Homo sapiens: one gene and its partners. The protein of the gene in region 1 interacts with the protein of each later gene in a pairwise test. Each region holds a gene or a part of one and is shown in the gene's direction. Other genes may lie near its edges.

Region 1 (2,370 bases):
GTGCTAGCGCTTCCCTCAAGGCTTTCTTCACCAAGGAAACAAGGAGTCCCTGTTACCCAGGCTTTCTCAGGGACATCCCCTGGCCCCACTCCGAGGGGCAGCATGATTTCGGGAGCCCCAGGAGCCCTGGCTGTGGGTGTGTGGGTGCATCCAGGGCGTGCGGCCTGCTCCTGGGCACTTGGGGCTGTACCCAGCTTGGGTGTACCCAGATGTTTGGTGGGTTTGGGGAGCTATATTCTTGAGTATTTTCAATTTTATTTCTTTTTTTTTGAGACAGGGTCTTGCCGTTTTCACTGTTTTACACAAAACTTCCCCTAGTTTTAAAAGGAATTAGATGTTCAGGTACAGAATTTTGAAAATGCAAAAAAGTAGAGAAAAACACTTAGACTCTCAGATTTAAAATCCTCTTTAATGTTTCGTGCTGTTATATAATTCTGAGGATTTGGCCGCAGCTGTGGTTATGTGGACATTTCTGCCTTTTCCCTCCTGCTTATCCCGGAAGCATCTTGTAAACCTGCTCACTATACAGTGTCCCTTCCTTCGTCATGTCCCTGTTTTGAGCCGTTTTCGGCTGTTTTCATTTTCTTTTCTTATAACCAGTGCTGCCGTCACCATCTTTGCCCTCATGTCACGTGACTTCCCTAGGACAGTGTTTGCCGCTGTCAGTACCCCCAGAATCTCACAGTGAACCAAATGTATTTACGCCCTGAGTGGGGCTCCCCCAGAGGTGATCTGTCCCTGGAGGCGGCGAGCGTGCTGTGAGCCGGGAGTGCGGCGCGGCCCGGGGAAGGCCCCCAGCCCCAGGACTCCCCTTGGACCACGGTCCGAGGCACTGACATGTGCCTCTGGGCTCTTGAATTGAGCCTGCGGATCTGAAGCTCGGGTGGGAGCTGGGTGCTTTCCCGTGTCACGTGTGGTACACTGATCTGCCTTTAACATTGACTTTATCTTAGTCTGAGGAAGATGATATTGAAAGAAGGAAAGAAGTTGAAAGCATCTTGAAGAAAAACTCAGATTGGATATGGGATTGGTCAAGTCGGCCGGAAAATATTCCCCCCAAGTGAGTGTGTTCTCAGTGTCACGGGGGCACCCCTTGACAGAGGACACATCAGCTGACACGTTTCTTCCCGCCTCAGGGAGTTCCTCTTTAAACACCCGAAGCGCACGGCCACCCTCAGCATGAGGAACACGAGCGTCATGAAGAAAGGGGGCATATTCTCTGCAGAATTTCTGAAAGTTTTCCTTCCATCTCTGCTGCTCTCTCATTTGCTGGCCATCGGATTGGGGTAGGTGATGTGACTGTGTGACTCCTGTCATGGCATGTCGTGGGGCGATTCTGGGTTGCAGTGATTTATTCGTAACCTGTTTCCTGAAGTCCAGATCATCAGTTACAGCTTGGTGCATTTTCACAAACACCCACGTAGTCACTGTTCAGGTCCAGAAACCACCAGCCTGCAGCCCCCAAAGGCCCCAGCACAGGCGCCCTGTGGTGCTGCTGTCTGGCCTGACGAGTCTGCCTGTTGCTCACTGAATATAAACGGAGTCAAAGCAGGGCTTCTTAGGTCTGACCTCTTTGTCCTGTGTGTAGGTGAAAGCAGTCTCATTTCTGTGTAGTACTGTGGCGGGAATGCACCCAGCTCTGCTGTAGGTGGAGGGTCTCAGTTACCTGCTGTACTTCCTCCAGACAGGACTGTTGTTCTAGTAACTCTCAGCAATGAAGGAACCAATGCAGTCTCCGACTTTACTGGCTTGAGTTTCGCTCTTGTTGCCCAGGCTGAGTGCAGGGGCGTGATCTCGGCTCACTGCAGCCTCTGCCTCCTGGGTTCAAGCGACTCTCCTGCCTCAGCCTCCTGGGTAGCTGGGATTACAGGTGCCCACCACCAGGCCTGGCTAATTTTTGTATTTTTAATAGAGACGGGGCTTCGCCACGTTGCCCAGGCTGATCTCGAACTCAAGGGATGGCTCACCTCGGCCTCCAAAGTGCTGGGATTACAGGCGTGAGCCACCGCGCCTGGCCTTTCCTGGCTGCTTATACTCACTCACCCTGCAGAAAACACAGAGACCAGGCAGGCGCCGCTGTGGGTTCTGAAGAGCGTTCGCCGCAGCGGTGGTGAAGAGCCAGAGCGGGAAGCCAAAACGGCTCCTCCTCGGGCTGGTCCCAGCCTCTCAGCGGGGAGGAGGGCTCTAGTCCTGGCGTGCAGACAGTGTTCTGTGGCTGCCGTGTGTTGGACAGACTGGAAAGACCGGAATGCCACTGGGGGCAGGTGGGTTAGGTAGGTTGGCCAGAGGGCTCACATCTGGGGTTGAAGGAAACGGGATAAAAGCCACTGAGTTTCCTGGGCCGGGACCTGAGCGCTGCCCGTGTCTCCA
Region 2 (4,255 bases), on another chromosome or scaffold:
CTGATCATTTGAATCCAGTGCCCATGTTTCTAACCACAGCGCTCTCCTGCTTGTTATTATATTCCCATTAATTTCACGTGAGGAAACTCGACTCAGGACAAGCGAATTGTTTGAGGTCCCAGCTGGTAAAGAAGTAGAGCTGGCAGGTCTCTCTTCCCAGCTATTTGGTGCCCTGGCATCGCGGGCTGAGCCAGTAGAGTAAGCTAGTGAGCAAGAGAGCAAATGTATGGGGCTTTCCCATGCCACTAATATCGAGGAGACAGTGGGCTGGGGACACCCTATCTTCTATCCCTTACTCCTCCCTCTAAAAGACTTCTGGCTCCCCCGCAAAGCCTTATTGAGTCAGGCCCGGAGCGATGGGTGTGGTGCTGCCCAGTATTTCCTTCCTTTGCCTGAGGCTGTGCCAAAAGAGCAGGCTGCTAGAAGAGGAGCCTCGACCTAGAGAGCAGCCCAGAGTCCACCAGGTGGCCGGAGATTTGGGCCAATTAAGTAGGGGGTTGGAGGTAGTAGTAGGAAGACCTGAGGTCAGTCTTGCCCTGGCAATTCGTGCCAGCAAGTGAAGACCCAACACTTGCATGAGGAAGGGATCCAACGAGGAGCTCATTAATGGGAAATATTCAGGAGCGCGGCCGAAGGGTTTGCGCCATTGTTGGTGAGTTGTTAAGACTTGGAAGAAAACTGACTTCAGTAAGCTTCCATTTCCACCCCTCGATGTGAGGAAATAAGATCAGGGCTGACAAACAGTGATGACTAATAATACCTTAAGCTTGCACAGCATACTTTACAGTTTACAAAACACTCTTATTTGATCCTCACAACAGCCAAGAGGCGACAAGGTGGCTATTACTAATTATCCCTAGTTTCCAGACCTGGAAAACTCTGGCTCAGAACTTGGGTGACACGGGTAGGTTACCCCGCCTTTAAGTGACCAAGCCGAGACTTACTGTGCCGCTCTCCCCCTTGGAAGCCTAGTGATGTGCCTAGGTAATGAGCAGGTAAAGTCGCTGACGCTGGGCAGCAGCTAGACGGCGCTGAAGCTCCAGTAAGGAATTTGGCATTAGGACCCAGCAGAAGCCTGGCCGCCCGCCGCGGAAAAGACTATTGGATTTGCTCTGCCGACCACACCTCCTCCCGCCCCGCCTACCTGTCCGTCTTCGCACAGCGCAGCCAATTGGTGGCCTCCACATCCTTATACGTCATTATTCTACGCCCAGGTGGCTCTAGGACACCCTGTGGTGCTCTGGGTCGCAGTTGTCCTCAGAGTTGCCTGATTGGAAAAATCTCCAGGGCGAGGGATCAGTCTCGAGGCTGCCGGTTCCCCTGGCCCTCAGGGATGGAGCCAAGGTCCCAGGGCGGGTTTTCTTTCCTAGGAAGTGGTTGCTGGGTTCTGAGGAGTTTCCCCCTTGGCAGCCATGAGCCGGCAGTTCTGGTAGTGACTGCTGGGCCCTGCTGGACAGCGGTCGCATGCAGCTCCTATGAGGCCCCTGCCGCCGGTCGGCGATGTCCGGCTGGAGCTGTCGCCTCCGCCGCCGCTGCTGCCGGTGCCGGTTGTGAGCGGGTCTCCAGTCGGCTCCTCTGGGCGTCTCATGGCCTCTAGCAGCTCCCTGGTGCCCGACCGGCTGCGCCTGCCGCTCTGCTTCCTGGGTGTCTTTGTCTGCTATTTTTACTATGGGATCCTGCAGGAAAAGATGTGAGCGACCCCGGGGGCGGGCCGACAGTCTCTCCCCAGCCTGTGACAGGGATCCCGGGCCTTCTGCCTCTGGACCCGGGCTTTCCTCTTGTCCTCCTGCCCGGCTGTCGCCCTCTTAGCACCCTACTACTTTTGCAGCTATGGCTGAGCCTACCCAGAATTCCAGAACTCCAGGATTATTTTCTGGATTCTTCGGACTTGGTTATTTTCTTTTCTTAGCTGTTTTTCCCCGCTTGGTTCTAAGGGCCTGCGTTTTACAGGCTGAGACTTCTATTCCTCAAACAGGACCCGAGTCGGCCCCCTTTTGGTACTCCCAGATGCTTGCAAACAACCTATTCGTCCTCGGCCTTGGTGCCATAGCCGAAATACCGTCTCCTCCTGCCTGGGGTACCTGATTTCACTATCTCGTTCTGCATGTTTCCTCTCCGTCTTTTTCGGGTATTCTTTTCTTAGGCTTTGGAATCAGTAGGCTGGGATGTCTAGTTTCTAGATCCAGTAAAATCAGCCCCTTTTGCAAATGAGCCTAGTGGTCCTTAACAAACTCTGCCTACATCCAGAGAGGCAAGATAATTTTAAAGTTTTCAGTGGCTCGGGATATATTAGATGACAGTGAGTGAAATACACTAATTTCTCCCTCTTTTCTCATGCATTTCATTTCTAGAACAAGAGGAAAGTATGGGGAAGGAGCCAAGCAGGAGACGTTCACCTTTGCCTTAACTTTGGTCTTCATTCAATGTGTGATCAATGCTGTGTTTGCCAAGATCTGTGAGTACCCAGATAGTAATTTGTTGGGTACCCCACCACCCCAAGTTCCCTCAGTATGCTGGGCATTAAGCATTGATTCAACCTTAAAGGCTAACTCATGATCTCCACCCCATTTTGTACTTACACAGCCTCTCTGTGAAGTCTGTAAAACTAATGACTTTGAAGTGGAGTAAAATATTATTTCCCCAATTTTTATCAGCTTCTGAGTTAGAAATGTTCAGAGAATGGGTCTTCTATATTCCAAATCCCCATTGAAAATACTTAAAACATTTTTTTCTTTCCCTTTGAGTTTCTTTTGTGTGTCAGCTTCAAGCATGCTTTGAGCATTCTCTCTTTGTTCCCTGGGGACTAGCAGCAGAGCTGACTGGTCCCTTGAACTGAATGAGGCCCCCACCTCCACCCTGCATGTGGTCTTTTGTTGGGCTTAGGTAGAATTGGAAAGATGAATAATTTTCAGAGATTTCCCAGTGTAACAGGACAGAAATAGCTTGTGTCTTGTTTGACAGACAAGTTCCTTTCATGTGGCTTCAGCTTTGCTTAGTGGTCCATCCTAGCCCCACCAGGTTTCTCTTGTTTTTTTTTTTTTTTCTTTTCTTTTCTTTTTTTTTTTTTTTTTTTGTCTTCTCCCAGTGATCCAGTTTTTTGACACTGCCAGGGTGGATCGTACCCGGAGCTGGCTCTATGCTGCCTGTTCTATCTCCTATCTGGGTGCCATGGTCTCCAGCAATTCAGCACTACAGTTTGTCAACTACCCAACTCAGGTGAAACCTCAGGGTGGGATGATGGTTGGCTCAGATATCATTTGAAAAGGACTAAGAGTTCTTCCCTCAGGTCTGTGAGTTAAAAAAAAAAAAAAAAAAAAGATAACGGTCCTGTAAGACATTGGGAGTGTATAGAACCATAGAACTTACGTTTAGTGGTGGTGGGTTGGGCCATGATAGGGCTGCTTTCTGAGGCTGAGGTCTCTGGTGCAGGCCCTGTGCTTACTCATCTTAATCAGTGCGGTACCTAGCATAGTACCTGACACATCACAGATGCTCAGAAATTATTTGCTGGATTTAATTTCAGGTCCTTGGTAAATCCTGCAAGCCAATCCCAGGTAAGCAAAGAAGATGGTCTTCCTCTTCTGTCGTCACTCTTCCTATAGTAAGCTCTCTCTCTGCTACAACTGTGTCCCTCTCGGCTTCATCATCCCATCATGGCTGTCTCCAGGGACTTTCCCCCAGCTCTCCCTGCTGCCCATCCTGTCATCTGTGTCACTTCTTGTGATGTTCATAGGCTGGTAATCCTTAATAGGAGCTAAAGGCTGACCTAGCCTGCTTCACTTGGTCAGCCATTTCTGTGTTGCATGTGTTTATATTGTCATTAGACAACTTAATTCCCATTTTGATCATCAGTTTCTTTATCTCAACTTCTTTTCCTTCTCCACTGTTCCCTACCCTTGTCCTGTCCCTTCCTGGACTTTTCACCTTTGTTCTCTACCTCCTCCCTGTCTTATACTTAACCCTGTTGCTCAATCCTTATCTAGGTGCCAGCCTGGCACCCTCCTTTTGTCCTCTCTAAGCCTTCCTTCTCAGTCATTCTTTTCTCCCTGAGTCTTTTCTTGGTTCCTGGGAGGGAGGGCATTGGGGTCATCAATACCTTATGGATGCCTGAATTTTCCACTCTGTTTTTTCCCTGTAGTCATGCTCCTTGGGGTGACCCTCTTGAAGAAGAAGTACCCGTTGGCCAAGTACCTGTGTGTGCTGTTAATTGTGGCTGGAGTGGCCCTTTTCATGTACAAACCCAAGAAAGTTGTTG
Region 3 (3,500 bases), on another chromosome or scaffold:
TACTCCTTGGGAGGCCGAAGCAGGAGAATCCCTTGAACCGGGGAGGCAGAAGTTGCGGTGAGCCGAGATCTTGCCACTGCACTCCAGCCTGGGCGACAGAGCCAGACTCCGTCTCAAAAAAACAAAAGATGCCGTGTATTATTTTGTTATTAAATAATGTTAGGACAACATTGCATAGCTGTCAAAGCTGTATAAACTTAAAATGGGACCATCAATTTTAGATTCTAAAGGCATAAATTGGTCCTGCCAAAATTTATTGATAGAAAGAGTCTTACAAAGCTGTTGTTGAAATCAGTCATGTGACCAGGAGCTCTGGTATTCCTTACTTCTCTTGTCACAGGTAGATTAATTACCGCTAGCAGCATTCTTCTAGTTAGGAAATTGTTGCAGTTTATTGCCACTTTTGCATTTAAATGGAAGTAGTTTGTTAGCTGCCTTGTTATATCTTTTTGAATTGAAAATGCTATTATTATGAAATATAATCAGTTATCGAAAATCTTTGGCATCTTTGCTGTGGAAAGAAACTGAGTACATTTGAAGTAACCCAGTTTTGGAGTAGAATTAGACTTCAGAGCTATAAGGAACCCAGACATTGTAAAGAGTTCAAGATGTCAAGTGGTTTTTAGAATCTGACCTATGTATCTGGCATCAACAGTTTATAGTCATTGAAGTGGTTTATTTTGAAGTCCTTGTGGATTTTGATTTGGTAGATCAAATGAGTAATGACTGTAATATTTGCTACAATTAGTTTGGCTTTTAGTGATCACCTAACATATTCCTTCTCCCAGTTTATAGCAAATGATATACCTAAAATAGCCTTTAAATCTGTGTGTATATGTATTTTTAGATTTTCTAAAAATTACAGATATCTTTGAGAATCGGAGAAAAGCTGTGTATCCTCTTTCTAGTAAAGTACCCATACAAACATTGTTATGCTTTTTTTCGTTTCGTTTTTGTTTTTTTGTTTTGTTTTTGAGACAGGGTCTTGCTGTGTCAACCAGGCTAGAGTGCAGTGGTGTGATCTCAGCTCACCGCAACCTCCACCTCCTGGCCTCAAAGCAGTTCTCCTGCCTCAACTTCCTGAGTAGCTAGGACTACAGGCATGTGCCACCAAGCTCGGCTAATTTTTAAATTTTTTTGTTGAGATGAGGTCTCACTATATTGCCCAGGCTGGTTTCAAGCTCCTGGGCTCAAGCCATCCCCCAGCCCTGACCTCCCAAGGTGCTGGGATTACAGATGTGAGTCACTGTGCTCAGCCCATACAATTTTACATACACTTAAGGAGTCCACACACCTCCCATGCCTCCTTAAGCTTATGCATGGACCCCAGAATAAGGTTTTCAGGATCCCAATTATTCAAATCTGAGAGATCTCTGAATTTCTTACTTCGTAAGTCATGCTTTACTTTGCTATGATTTTTTTCACTTAGCCCCAGGAATATCAATACGAAAGACACAGGATAAATCAGGAATGGGAAATTGTAAGTTGATAGTGGGATTATGTTAAGGGACAAATTTAACAGTTTTTAAACTCTTTATGAGATTTGTCTGTCTTTTGGATTACTTTACATTGGAAATTATTGCTTTACAGATACTTCATGTTTTATAATACTACTTTCAGAGATTATCGTGATGCTTATTCAGTCATTTTTTAAAACCCTAAACCCTTTCTTTTTCTTCAGATGTGGCACCATTTATTGAGTTTCTGAAGGCCATACAAGATGGAACAATAGTTTTAATGGGAACATACGATGATGGAGCAACCAAGTATGTAAACTTTACAGAACTTTTTGGAACTATAATTTGTAATTATAAAAGCAATACATTTTCATTAAAAAAAAATCTGTAACATAGAGCAAAGTAATCAAACTACCAGGTAAACACAACTAACAATTTTTGTTTTTACTTTGCCTCCTTCCTGGTTTTATATGTAAATGTTTATCACACATATATTGTCATGAAATTAGAATCACATCATATGTAACATTTTTTATACTTTTATGTTTTGTTTTTTAACATTCTGAAATTGTTTTTCCTAGCATTAATATTCTTCAATAGCATTTTTATGGTTCATCAGCAGTTATGGGCTCACCTTTAAAGTTTCCCTATTATTATGTCATTAGGGTAAATTTCAAGAAATGGAGTTAATTGTCAAAGATACAGGTGTGCTATATTTTAAATAATTTTAATATATAGTAGTTTTATAACTTTTTCTTAAAATAGTATATGTTGTAAAAATTTGGAAAATTATAGAAAAGCGCAAAGAGACCAAGTTCCAGTCCATCTCACTACCCAGTGTAAACATTGATGATATTTTAGTTTCTATTCCAGATGACTTAAGACACATTTTTTGGCATTAAATATTTAGAATGCTAGTATTTATAGCATATCTCTTCACTTACGTGGTGAATATTTCCCCTTATTATTAAATATTCTTTATAAAAAATTGTTTATGCCTGCCTAGTCTGGTTTTTAAAATGTCATGATTTATAACCTGTTTAATGGGTTGCCTATTGCTGGACCCAGACTAGTTCCAATTTGCATACTTAGCACAATAGACTATCTTAGAAATGTTTGAACAGTCCATGTCTATGTCTTTAAGATAGACTTCTTTTTTTTAAAGTGGAAATGATTAATTAAAGGATGTGCATGTTTTTAAAAATGGATTTTAAAAATTTTTTTACCAATTTTATATTTTTCTCAGAAGTTCCATGGCACCAATTGTTAATTTTTTTAAGTTTCAATTTTAAGAGTTTGAAAAGGTATCTTATTTTAATATGCCTTTATTATTGAGATTGGATTTTTTTCACAAGTGGTTTTTTTTTCTTTTGCCTTTTTATGTAAATTGTCTTTTGACCATTCGAGTTGGCCTATCTTGACTTGTAAGACCCCTTCACGTTTTAAGGATATTAACCATTTCTAATGTAAAAAGAAATGTATTTATTGTACATTATTTGCTTTTAATTTTGTTAGTGTAGGGTGCTTTTTGAATTTTAGAATTTTAGACTAATGCCTATATAGTCTATGTATTTTTCTATCACTCTCCTTGTATACTTGAGAAGTATTTTTCCACCTCCAGGTTAGATATTTAGTAGATTTTCTCTTCCAGTGATTTCACTGTTGTCATGTATTTTTAAAAACCCATTTGTAATTTCCCCATGACACACAATGCCTATGTTCTTATGTAGATTTGGCTTTATCTCTGGAATTTCTGTTCTGTTCCATTCACTTGACCTGTTTATCTCTGTTCCAAAAAGACACTATTTCAATTATTTTAAAATTGTTTTATAAAAGTAATTGTACTTCATGCCTCTCTGGTTGAGATTAAATCCCCTTTAATGTTCTTCTTTCTAGAAAAAAATAATTTTTTCTCTGACTTTTCTTCAGATGACTTATCAAGGATAAAAAACATCCTTTATAGATTTTAATTGACAGAGCTTTAATACTACAAGATTTATAGATTTTATAGATTTTAATTGACAGAGCCTTAATACTACAAGA
Region 4 (3,500 bases), on another chromosome or scaffold:
CACTGTTCTTTTCATCCTGTCAATTAGTAGGCCACTTCCAGGTTAGGCATTCAGTAAATCTTTCAGCTTATATGGAGAGACAGCCTCCATATGTACAAAACTACTTGAGTATTGCTAAGGTAACATTTTAGAGCCCTGTCTTTGTACCTTAATAGCCTACAAGCCCCTTCTGACCCTAGAAATAGAAAAGACTAGTGTGCGTTTTGCCTTTCCTTAGAAGAAATTGGCAATGATGCCTTTACAGAGCAATCAAGATCAGATACTATGAGAGTTAAGTATGTTTTTCTGGCTTTCTGATTTTGTTTTGTTCTTATTTTTTATGTGTTTGTTTGGAACTTTCGTATTGAGGTATAGCATACAAACAGTACATACAGTCAAGTATGTGGTGTTACTACTCAGATTGAGATATTAGATCTTAGCTCTCTAATGCTTCAGTATACCCTATCAGAGATGACCATTTTTTTTTACTATATAATTTTTAACCTATTCAATGTAATATTTTATTAGGTAAAAAGCTGCTTTTTTCAAGACTTTAGGAGTCTTGAATCCCCATGAAATGCATTTTTAAAAAGCATGGGCTGGGCATGGTAGCTCACACCTGTAATCCCAGCACTTTGGGAGGCTGAGGCAGGCAGATCACTTGAGGCCAGGAGTTCGAGACCAGCCTAGCCAACATGGCGAAACCCCGTCTCTAGTAAAAATACAAAAATTAGCGGGTGTGGTGGCATGTGCCAGTAGTCTCAGATTTGGGGGTGGCTGAGGCACGAGAATAACTTGAACCCAGGAGACAGAGGTTGCAGTGAGCCAAGATTGTACTGCTACACTCCAGCCTGGGTGACACAGCAAGACTCTATCTCAATTAAAAAAAAAAAAAAAAAAAAGTATGTTATAGTACAGGGATGGTGTATTTATCCAGGATGATTTTACTCCTTATGTTTCTAAATGTTATTGCTTATCTTATGCTCATGTAAGGTAATTAAAAAACTAATTAACATTTCAATTTTAAAAAGGTATATAGCTGTCCCTTTAATGTGGTCACATGATAATTATTACTTAAGTTAGGTTTTATCCGCTTTTAAGTAAGTATGTGTAGAACTGAAGTCCAAATATACTGCTTGTGCTTTTTTATTCTGGGAAAAAAAACTATCAAATTACTGTATGTTTTTTCTTTTTGTTTTAAGAAGTCAGCACTCTAAATAATTGTATTAATCAAGTGTTGTGATTGTTTCTAAAGGTGTTACTAATGGATTGAGAGGCCAGTCTGTTTTAGTTGTGATTTTGTTATTACCTGGTTGTTTCACCTTGAGCAGAACCGTTAACTTCAGTGTATCTTAGTTTCCTCATTTAGAAAATTTAAGAAGTTGGATGACGTATTCTCCAGCTGTTCCAATGACAGGAATCATGATTCTGAATACATAGTAATTCTCCTCCTTTGACAAAGAGAAGGCAAGGAAAAGCTAAGACATGAGATTCCATTATCAGTAATGTTATTCCTGTAAGTGTGTGCACATATGCACACACATATGTATGTTTGCCTGTGTATTTCTTGTGACTTGATTTAACATGTGGTCTGTTCTACCTCTCAACAGTGGAAAAATGACTATCTCTAATGGATTAACAGATTTTTTTCCCTCTTTCGTGTGTATTTTGAGGCTCTTAGTCGGGACATTGTCATAGTTACTTAAGTTTTCAACTTTAACTTGTGCCAAAACTCATCTTAAGAAATTTTTAAAATTAAATAGTGATTATTAGGGTAAATATATGCAGTACATATATAGTATACAATATATGCAATACATATATAGTATAGGTGACTAAGATGTATAAGAAAAATTTGGAAATTAAGAACCATGTTTAAAAAGGATACAGACCGGGCGTGGTGGCCCACACCTGTAATTTCAGCACTTTGGGAGGCTGAGGGGGTGGATCACTTGAGGTCAAGAGCTCGAGATTAGCCTGGCCAACATGCTGAAACCCTGTCTGTACTAAAAATACAAAAATTAACCTGGTGTGGTGGCAGGCACCTGTGGTCCCAGCTACTCAGGAGGCTGAGACAGGAGAATTGCTTGAACCCGGGAAGCGGAAGTTGCGGTGAGCTGAGATTGCACCATGGCACTCCAGCCTGGGCAACAGAGCGAGACTGTGTCTCAAAAAAAAAAAAAAAAAAAAAGGCTACCAAAATAATGCCAGTTTTACCTTTTTTTTTTTTGAAATGGAGTCTCACTGTGTTGCCCAGGCTGGAGTGCAGTCATGTGATCTCAGCTCACCGCAACCTCCGCCTCCCAGGGTTCAAGTGATTGTCGTGCCTCAGCCTCCTGAGTAGCTGGAACTACAGGCATGTGCCACCGCACCTGGCTAATTTTTGTATTATTAGTAGACGCGGGATTTCACCATATTGGCCAGGCTGGTCTCGAACTCCTGACCTCGTGATCTGCCCGCCTCAGCCTCCCAAAGCGCTGGGACTACAGACGTGAGCCACCGCGCCCAGCATAGTTTTATCATTTTTAGAATCTTTATTCCTATCATTGCTATGGCTGTAGTTTTCAATTCCTATATCATCTCTTTCATAAAGACATATATCTTGTTATTTAATCATAGGGAGGCAGTATGAGTGTGATATTTAAGGACTGAGACACTACAACCAGACTCTTTGGGTTCAAATTCCAGTTCTATAACTTATCAGTTCTGTATCTTTGGCAGCTTACTTAACCCCGCTGTGCCTTAGTTTTCTTATCTGAAGTAGAGACAAAATAGTACTTGCTTCAAGTCCTTCCCAGGGTTGTTGTGAGCATTGAATGAGTATTACATGTTAATCACTAAGAAGAATGCTTTTTATGAAATATAAAGTAAGCTATTACAGTATATTGAAATGCTATTGTGAAATCAGATTTCTGTTTTTAGAGAAGTTCTGAAATAATGTTTCTTTTCACTAATTGTCCTAGTTTCCTAATGGAAGTTGGCTTTCTAGAAAGTAACAAATAATTGATACAAGATTATGATGGTGTTAATGAGTTTTTAAAACAGTATTCTAACCAGAATATGAACACTGTTCTAATTTAAGTGACATAATATTGTTCAAAAATGTCTTCGTGTAGATTGTTTTAACAGCTCTTTTGAGCTCTAATTGAAATGCAATAAACTGTATATAATTAAAGTATACAATTTGATTAGTTTTGATGAATATATATACACTCACCTATGAAACCACCACAACTGAAGCCGTAAGTATATCCATTACCTCCAAAAGTTTCGTCATGTCTGTCAGTGATCCTTCCTTCCCACTTCTCCCTGCCTCATTACAAGGCACTGCTGATATTTTCTGTCACTCTATATTTGTTTATAATTTCTCGAGCAACCTTGTCCAGTCTGCTGCCTGTGGGCCTCATATAGCCCAGGATGGCTTTGACTGCAGCCCAATGCAAATTAGTAAACTTTCTTAAAACATTATGAGATTTTTTTGCAATTTTTTTAGGCTTATCAGCTCTGGTTAGTGTTAGTGT

The links. The genes of interacting proteins can lie anywhere in the genome.
Region 2: the proteins of BNIP3 (region 1) and SLC35B1 interact in binary tests that used the Homo sapiens proteins (3 or more experiments, as listed by UniProt).
Region 3: the proteins of BNIP3 (region 1) and FAM3C interact in binary tests that used the Homo sapiens proteins (3 or more experiments, as listed by UniProt).
Region 4: the proteins of BNIP3 (region 1) and EBAG9 interact in binary tests that used the Homo sapiens proteins (3 or more experiments, as listed by UniProt).

What each region holds. Positions count from the first base shown.
Region 1 is NC_000010.11:131,969,554-131,971,923, reverse strand, and holds part of BNIP3 (BCL2/adenovirus E1B 19 kDa protein-interacting protein 3), read left to right. Parts: intron 1-390; exon of another isoform or gene 391-953; coding exon 954-1,060; exon of another isoform or gene 1,061-1,136; coding exon 1,137-1,286; exon of another isoform or gene 1,287-2,269; coding exon of another isoform or gene 2,270-2,297; intron 2,298-2,370. UniProt on the Homo sapiens protein: Apoptosis-inducing protein that can overcome BCL2 suppression. May play a role in repartitioning calcium between the two major intracellular calcium stores in association with BCL2.
Region 2 is NC_000017.11:49,705,165-49,709,419, reverse strand, and holds the start of SLC35B1 (solute carrier family 35 member B1), read left to right. Parts: upstream 1-1,455; 5' UTR 1,456-1,475; coding exon of another isoform or gene 1,476-1,586; coding exon 1,587-1,690; intron 1,691-1,975; coding exon of another isoform or gene 1,976-2,077; intron 2,078-2,351; coding exon 2,352-2,455; intron 2,456-3,085; coding exon 3,086-3,216; intron 3,217-3,523; coding exon 3,524-3,554; intron 3,555-4,138; coding exon 4,139-4,255.
Region 3 is NC_000007.14:121,358,309-121,361,808, reverse strand, and holds part of FAM3C (protein FAM3C precursor), read left to right. Parts: intron 1-1,681; coding exon 1,682-1,766; intron 1,767-3,500. UniProt on the Homo sapiens protein: May be involved in retinal laminar formation. Promotes epithelial to mesenchymal transition.
Region 4 is NC_000008.11:109,543,173-109,546,672, forward strand, and holds part of EBAG9 (receptor-binding cancer antigen expressed on SiSo cells), read left to right. Parts: intron 1-3,500. UniProt on the Homo sapiens protein: May participate in suppression of cell proliferation and induces apoptotic cell death through activation of interleukin-1-beta converting enzyme (ICE)-like proteases.